2 separate regions of the Homo sapiens genome follow, and region 1 is linked to region 2. The links come from fine-mapping of genetic effects on gene expression. A gene starts in region 2. The other region holds a variant in brackets. All regions are shown on one strand. Distances are from middle to middle.

Region 1 (4,385 bases), 200 kb before region 2:
TGCTTAGTGTTTGCAGGGTATGTCTTTTACTTCCAAAGTATTTATTCTCATATTTATAGTGCTTTTCTTCTAGGTAACATGTATTTGGGTCTTATTTTTCTTAAATCCATTTTGATAATCTCTGCCTTTTAATTGGAGTATTTAGATAATTTACATTTAATTTTATTATCAATATGGCTAGGTTTGAATCTATCACCTTGCTATTTGTTGTTTTCTAATCCATTCTTTTTTTAGGGGGGGTGGGGATGGAGTTTCACTCTTATTGCCCAGGCTGGAGTGCAATGGCATGATCTTGGCTCACAGCAACCTCTGTCTCCCAGGTTCAAGTGATTATCCTGCCTCAGCCTCCTGAGTAGCTGGGATTACAGGCATGCGCCACCACACCTGGCTAATTTTTTTGTATTTTTAGTAGAGATGGGGTTTCACTATGTTGGTCAGGCTGGTTTCGAACTCCTGACCTTGTGATCCGCCCACCTTGGCCTCCCAAAGTGCTGGGATTACAGGCGTGAGCCACCATGCCCGTCCTTCTAATCCATTCTTTATCCTTTTTTCTTCTTTTTCGTTTGATTAAGTATTTGTTAATGTTCTATTTTGTCTCCTCTACTAAACAACATACCTCCTTTTTAAAGCGACTTTGCTAGTGTTTAAAATATGCATCAACTAATCACAGCCAATCTTCAAATAATATATCATTAAGTGTAGTATGAAAACTTTAAACACTATAAATTCCATTCGTCCCTTCCATCACTGTGCTATCATTTTCATTCATTTCACTGATACATTTGTTATAATGCCATATATTGTTCTTAATTTTTTAATTATCATGTAAAAAATTTTAATGAGAACAAATATCATATTTGCCTACAGATCTACCACTTTCAGTGCTTTTCATTTCTTTGAATAGATTCGTTTCCATCTGATATCATTTTCCTTCAAAATGAAGAATATTTTTTAAACTTTCTGATATGCAGGTCTCCTTGTAACAATATTTTTTGCTTTTGTTAGGCAGAAAATATCTTTATTTTGCTTCATTTGTGAAAGAGATTGTCACTTAATATAGATGCTATGTGAACAGGGGTTTTTTTCCCCCTTTGGCATTTCAAAGATGGCTTGTATTGTTTCTATTAAGGAGTCAGTGATAACTCTTATCCATATTCCTTTTTATTTAATATGTCTTCCCCCATGTCTCCTTGCACTTAAGATTTTCTCATTAATTTTGTTTTCAGCAATTGATTATGTTGTACCTTGGTATGGTTTACTCTGTGTTTATTCTTCTTGAATTTGTAGATTTATAGTATTCATCAAATTTGGATGAGTTTCAGGCATCATTCTTTAAATATTTGTCCCGTTCCTCTTTTACTTGGGCTTCAGTCTCACTATATTAGAACATTTTGTATTATCCACGGGTCATAGAAGCTCTAGGCTTTTTTTCTCAGCCTTTTTTTCTCTCTTTCTTTGTACTATTTTTTTTTTATGGTTTCTATTATTCTTACTTCAAGTCCACTTATCACATCTTCTGCATCTTTAATCTACTGTTAAGACTATCTATCGCATTTTTAATTTCAGATCTTGTATTTTTCAACTCCAGAAGTTCCATTTGGTTCTTTTTTATAGTTTCCATTTCTTTATTAAATTTATGTTTTACTTTAAAGCCCAAGCACGTTTATAATAGCTATATTAAGGTTTTTGTCTTCTATTTCTAATATTATTTTTATTTCTGCTTCTGCTTCTATTGACTTATTTCACTGGTTATGGGTCATATTTTTCTTTTTCTTTGTATGTCTAGTAATATTTTATTAGAGGTGAAAATTATAAATGTTACATTGTTAAATGTGGTTGCTAATTTTTTTGTGTCTACTTGACTGGGCCACTGGGTGCCCAGATATTTGGCCAAACATTAGTCTGGGTGTTTCTATGAGAGTGTTTTTGGATGAGATTAAGATTTAAATCAGTAAACTGAGTAAAGCAGATTGCCCTCCATAATGTGAGTAGGTCTCATTCAATCACTTAAAGGTCTGAACAGAAAAAAAGCCCAACCCTCTCCCAAGTAAGAGAAAATATTCCTGCCTGACAGCCTTTGAACTGGGACATAAGCTCTTTCTGGTTCTATAGCAGTATGCGGCCTTTGGACTCGAACGGGACCAAGGGTTCTGCATATTTCACACTTCTAGGCATAATAAGTCTCTCTCTGTTTCTCTCTCCATACACACAAACACACATTACACACACACACACACA[CAA/A]ATCAGCTCTGCTTCTTTGAAGAACACTAATATATTGTATTTGGATCTTGTTGTCTTCCTTTAAAGAGTGTTGTTTTGGAGGTAGTTAAGTTCCTTAAGAATCAGTTTGACAAATTCCCGGGCAAGATGGCTGAATAGGAACAGCTCCAGTCTGCAGCTCCCAGCGAGACCAATGCAGAAGGCAGGTGATTTCTGCATTTCCAACTGAGGTATCTAGCTCATCTCATTGGGACTGGTTAGACAGTGGGTGCAACCAACAGAGGGCAAGACAAAGGAGGGTGGGGTGTTGCCTCACCTGAGAAGTGCCAGGGGTCAGGAAACTCCCTCCCATAGCCAAGGGAAGCCATGAGGGACTGTGCCGTGAGGAACAGTGCATTCTGGGCCAGGTACTATGCTTTTCCCACAGTCTTCACAACCTACAGACCAGGAGATTCCCTTGGGTGCCTACACCACCAGGGCCCTGGGTTTTAAGCACAAAACTGGGTGGCCATTTGGGAAGACACCTACCTAGCTGCAGTTTTGTTTTTTTGTTTTGTTTTGTTTTGTTTTTTTGTACCCCAGTGGCACCTGGAATGCCAGCAAGACAGAACCATTCACTCCCCTGGAAAGGGGGCTGAAGCCAGAGAGCCGAGTTGTCTTGCTCAGTGTATCCCACCTCCAGGGAGCCCAACAAGGTAAGATCCACTGGCTTGAAATTCTCGCTGCCAGCACAGCAGTCTGAAGTCAACCTGGTATGTTCGAGCTTGGTGGGGTGATGGGCATCCACCATTACTGAGGCTTGAGTAGGCGGTTTTCCCCTCACAGTGTAAAAAAAGCCACCGGGAAGTTCGGACTGAGTGGAGCCCATCTCTGCGCCTCAAAGCCACTGTAGCCAGACTGCCTCTCCAGATTCCTCCTCTCAGGATAGGGCATCTCTGAAAGAAAGGCAGCAGCCCCAGTCACGGGCTAATAGATAAAACTCCCATCTCCCTGGGACAGAGCACCTTGGCGAAGGGGCAGCTGTGGGCACAGCTTCAGCATACTTAAATTTTCCTGCCTGCCAGCTCTGAAGACAGCAGCAGATCTCCCAGCACAGTGCTCAAGCTCTGCTAAGGGACAGACTGCCTCCTCAAGTAGGTCCCTGACCCCTGTGCCTCCTGCTGGGGACAGACCTCCCAGCAGGGGTTGACAGAAACCTCATAGAGGAGAGCTCCAGCTGGCATCTGGCAGGTGCCCCTCTGGGATGAAGCTTCCAGAGGAAGAAGCAGGCAGCTATCTTTGCTGTTCTGCAGCCTCCGCTGGTGATACCCAGGCAAACAGGTTCTGGAGTGGACCTCCAGCAAATGCCAGCAGACCTGCAGAAGAGGGGACTGACTGTTAGAAGGAAAAGTAAAAAACAGGAAGCAATAGTATCAACATCAACAAAAAGGATGACCACTCAAAAACCCCACCCGAAAGTCACCAACATGAAAGACCAAAGGTAGACAAATCCATGAAGATGAGGAAAAACAAGTGCAAAAAGGCTGAAAATTCCAAAAACCAGAATGCTTCTTCTCCTCCAGAGGGTCACAACTCCTCACCAGCAAGGGAACAAAACTGGACAGAGAATGAGTTGATGAATTGAAAGAAGTAGGCTTGAGAAGGTGGGTAATAACAAATTTCTCCGAGCTAAAGGAGCATGTTCTAACCCAATACAAGGAAGCTAAGAACCTTGAAAAAATGTTACAAAAACTGCTAACTAGAATAAATAGTTTAGAGAAGAACATAAATGACCTGATGGAGCTGAAAAACACAGTACAAGAACTTCATGAAGCATAAACAAGTGTCAACAGACAAATCGATCAAGCAGAAGAAAAGATATCAGAGATTGAAGATCAACTTAATGAAATAAAGCATGAAGACAAGATTAGGAAAAAAAAGAATGAAAAGGAACGAACAAAGCCTCTAAGAAATATGGGACTATGTGAAAAGACCAAACCTATGTTTGATTGGTGTACCTGAAAGTGACGGGGAGAATGGAACCAAGTTGGAAAATACATTTCAGGATATTATCCAGGAGAACTTCCCCAACCTAGCAAGACAGGCCAACATTCAAATTCAGGAAATACAGACAACACAACTAAGATACTCCTCAAGAAGAGCAACCCCAACACACATAATCGTCAG
Region 2 (4,385 bases):
CAACGAGCCTAGTTTCAGTTAATCCCTATTCTAGGTTCAATGCTTTAAGACGCTTGTCTGGGGACGTTCAAGGATGTTAACCCCTTTCCTAGAAAAAGAATGGGCCCTGCACCGACTCTAATCCTGGGCTTTTAAGTCCCTGTCTCCTACCGCCCAGCCGCGGCAAACCTGAAATATATATATTTCTCAATCCTGCTGCCCAAGACTCTAGGGCTAGTGGAGGGCAGAGCCCGAGCACAGAGTCAACTGCAACACCGAAGTTGGGCGCCCTCCATTCGCACTGACCTCGCCTTCCTGCCCCAACCACTTTGTCGGCGGTGAGCAAGGAAAGGACTGTCCTTGTGGAGTCCTTCGGGTGGGGATCGCTTTGTGGCCTGCGGCCGGACTCTGCCCGCCTCCAAAGGGCGATGCTCAAGGTGGAGTCTTTGGTCTCCCTTGGGCTAACCTGGCCTGACCAGCGGCGAGCCCCAGGCCGCCCTGTCCCGCGCTGGCGCCGCAGGCCCTCGCCTCCCTCTAATTTACAGCCCGCGGGCTCCTGTTGACACCGTTTTCCACACCGAACTCCTTCGGGTGGAATCTGCATATACACATCAGCCTCCCCTCTCGGCTTGGGGCCAAGCCTGGGGTGATTTCAGCTCCTGCCATTTACCACCCGCCCTCGCCGCACGTGAGCCTTCTCAAGAAGCTCATGCCACACGGGCGCTGCGGCCCGGGTGCCCCGCGGCCCGGTGACTTACAAGTGGAGATCCATTTTCCGTTATAATGCGTTCAAGATCACCAAGGCCAGCAGTCTCAACATCCACGAGCCGTCCTCCCGGCCTGCCTCTTAAACTGGCGTTTAATGGTTCCCCTCCGATAACTAAACCTGCTTTCCACAGATGCCCGCTTTTATGAGGGAGGCAGGAATGCAGAGATATATTTATATGTTTGTTCATAAAAACTGGAAAATAAGCTCTGAACACGCCGTAAAAAATATTCAGTTACTTACCAAACAGGCTAGTTAAACCAGGGGAACACCGATACCAGCCACACTACAGATTCGGGGAATCGAGGTGCCCGCACTTCAAAATCGCCCAAGGTCTTCGTAGGGACTGGTGTCCCTGAAGGATGTGGAAATAACAGCATTTACAATCGGCTTGACATGTTCGCCCGGAGGACTCAGCCGTCATCTCCAAAGTTTGCCGCAATAACGTGAGCCACCCCAAACAGCTCTAACCGGGGTAACTTGGTGGGTAACTCAATAGCCACTGAGACCGGCGTTTCGAGCCTGTAAACGGGTCAAAGAAACACCCTTCTCCAGCCGCTCCTCGTCCCTGCTGGGGCAAAGAGCGCCAGCTCCCAGCCGCGCCTTTGTGGGGGCCCCCACCGCCCGTCACGAGGCTCCCGGCGCCCCTGCATAAAATTGTAAGAGGCTGCCTGCGTATATTTTCTTACCTCGATTACCTACAAAGCACTTCGAAAAGCAATACCTGCGTTTTCTTTCTTTCTTTCTTTTCAACCAGAAAAGAGAGCAGAGTGATACTGTACCTGGTTAGAGATTCTTCAATATTTGAGACTTGGGGGGAAAATATTTTAATAGTGAAGCATCTGTTAAACACTTGCATTATCCTCTGACTGATAAAAAAAGTTTTTTTAACCCTGCCCCCCCCCCCCGCCAAGTTTTAATTATCTTATGGTTATGAGGAGGTAGCCAATCCTGGAAGAGGACCTCGGCAATTAGCAACGTGAACATCAAAAAGTTTTATTGCCGAGAGCTCGAGGCGCCGCCCCTGCCGCCCCGGGATTGGCGTGAGGAGCCTCTGACGACATATATTAACCCGAGCGGCCCTAAAGATGTAGCTGTACATGGAGATCTTGCTGGGAAAATCCGCTTGCTCCCCTCACGTCGTCCAGCCCAGGAGAACCACCGCCGTCACCCCGGAGCTTCCTCGGCCACCGCGCAGAGCCCTCCGAGAGCCCGAGCCGCGGTCTTCGAGCTCCAAGGCTCATTCAGGGCCCCAGATCCTTGCCCCGAAAGGAGAGGATCTGAGAAAATGGATGCACTGAGACCTCTCTGAAAACCCTCCGAGAGAGCGCGAGAGGAGCGAGGACACGTTACTCGCAGCTAAAATCACATTTAAGGACCAAAACAACAACAACCAAAAATTTCATTAAAACAATAAGCGCCCAAGAACCCAGATCGGGCTGGTGGGGGGAGGGGAAGAGGCGGGAAGGGGAGGGTCGCACGGAGGTAGCTTTGCAGTGAGCAGTCGACCCCGCCGCCCCCCGGCACAGCTGGACCGGCTCCTCCAGCCGCGGCTCAGACTCGCCCCTGGATTCCGGGTTAGCTTCGGTGCCAGGACCGCGGCCCGGGCTTGGATTCCCGAGACTCCGCGTACCAGCCTCGCGGGAGCCCCGGCACCTTTGTATGAGCACGAGAGGATTCTGCCTCCGCGCAGCAGCCCGGGAAGCAGGAGCCGAAGCGCGGGCCGTGGAGCAAGGCGGGAACCGGAGGCGGCGGCGGCGGCGGCCAGGGGCGCACGGTGCCAGGACCAGCTCGCCGCGCCCCATGGGGAGCCGGCGGCCGCAGCGCTGCTGAGGCGGGCCCGGCTGGCCAGGCGGGGGGACGGGGCCCGGGCTGCAGCAGCCCCCTCTGCGGCTGCCGGGCGGGCCCGGGCGCCCGGGGGCTGGGGGGTGGGGGGTGGGGGAGGACGCCGAGCGCTGAGGCAGGGGCCCGGGCCGAGGGCGCGGCGGGGCTGCGCGCACGCTGGGGCGCGTGGAGGGGCGCGGAGGGCGAAATGAGTCTGGTAGGTGGTTTTCCCCACCACCCGGTGGTGCACCACGAGGGCTACCCGTTTGCCGCCGCCGCCGCCGCAGCTGCCGCCGCCGCCGCCAGCCGCTGCAGCCATGAGGAGAACCCCTACTTCCATGGCTGGCTCATCGGCCACCCCGAGATGTCGCCCCCCGACTACAGCATGGCCCTGTCCTACAGCCCCGAGTATGCCAGCGGCGCCGCCGGCCTGGACCACTCCCATTACGGGGGGGTGCCGCCGGGCGCCGGGCCCCCGGGCCTGGGGGGGCCGCGCCCGGTGAAGCGCCGAGGCACCGCCAACCGCAAGGAGCGGCGCAGGACTCAGAGCATCAACAGCGCCTTCGCCGAACTGCGCGAGTGCATCCCCAACGTACCCGCCGACACCAAACTCTCCAAAATCAAGACCCTGCGCCTGGCCACCAGCTACATCGCCTACCTCATGGACCTGCTGGCCAAGGACGACCAGAATGGCGAGGCGGAGGCCTTCAAGGCAGAGATCAAGAAGACCGACGTGAAAGAGGAGAAGAGGAAGAAGGAGCTGGTCAGTACCAGGGGGCGGCAGGCGGTGGGGCTGAGGGGGTCAGGGAACTGGTGCTCCCGGCCTCTTTCCAATTGGGCTGAGAAATGGCATCTCGTGTTCTTTGGCTGCGTCCCGCTTCAAGGTTGTTTGCACCAGGTTGTGTAAGGATGGCTTCCGGCATAAGCAGAGAGTTGAGGGGAGGGTGTCAGCAGGAGGAGGAGAAGGTTAGGGATGCTTTGCGCTGGTGATCTTACCTCCGGGTTATCGCTGCTCCCCTAGTACTTAGGACGGACCTTGAAAACTCTGGGTCGCGATCGATCGCGATCGCACTGGTCTGGATGCCTCACCCCGTCTCTGTTAGACCCTTCTTTTGGCCTCCAATCCAATCTTGCTTTCAGATGTTTCCAGAATAAGTCTCGAAGAAGCCCTTGATTCCAATTATTTCACTATTGATCGCACCCCCTACCCCACTCCCAGAAGGAGGCTGCCAGAGACTGAGCCCTGAGTTTTGTGGTTGTTCTCATACTATGCCCGGAAAACGTAATGGTAAACATAAAATAAGTACTTTTGACTTCAAAATACAGCTCCAATTTTTCCTTGGCTATGACGTTAAAATGTAATTTCCCAGATGAGTATATTCCATTGGCATTTCTAATTTTATTTGAATAAGCCTGTACATTTTAAGGGGGAAAAGGCATTACTATGGTCATTGTTATTAAAAATAACACGAAAGTAAATTGAGCCGCTTAAAATTTTCTCAGATTCCTACCAAGTGCCCACAGGGCAGTGGTGCAGGATAGAGCTATGTCCACGAAGGGCCCGGAAAATAATTGCATTTGTCGAATTTTTCTTCTTTGGCCCCTGCAGCCCTTTGGTGGCTGCATAATCGAGTGACCTCCCGAATAACCAGAGATTTCAGAAGCCTTGGAGGAGAGGCACTGCTGAGCTGGAGGCCGAGAGCCTCTGGCCGAGAGGCCCAGGCCGAAACAGAGGCTCCTTCGCCCTATTTTTCCTAGATGTGGATCTAGGATTGCTAATGAAAACAGAGAAACCAGACTTAGCGCCGACTCCAGC

Alleles and levels. Positions count from the first base shown, and alleles are read on the strand shown. Sizes are in standard deviations (SD) of each study's normalised expression.
With allele CAA in place of A in region 1, the expression in skin of the gene that starts at base 1,838 in region 2 is higher (large effect, 1.1 SD a copy in TwinsUK).

The links. PIP is the estimated chance that this variant, and not a neighbour inherited with it, causes the effect.
Region 1: its variant is the best candidate, but not a certain one, in a credible set for the expression of HAND2 in skin (TwinsUK, PIP 0.64).

What each region holds. Positions count from the first base shown.
Region 1 is chr4:173,726,403-173,730,787 of GRCh38, reverse strand. No RefSeq gene overlaps it. Among named protein-coding and RNA genes, the nearest start is that of LINC02269, 170 kb to the left of the region's middle. The variant CAA/A (reference allele first, on the strand shown) is at 2,239.
Region 2 is chr4:173,527,682-173,532,066 of GRCh38, reverse strand. HAND2 (heart and neural crest derivatives expressed 2) reads left to right here and starts at 1,838. Exons shown (of 2, transcript NM_021973.3): 1 at 1,838-3,332. The coding sequence starts at 2,778. HAND2-AS1 (HAND2 antisense RNA 1) reads right to left here and starts at 1,696. Exons shown (of 5, transcript NR_136196.1): 1 at 1,528-1,696; 2 at 989-1,100.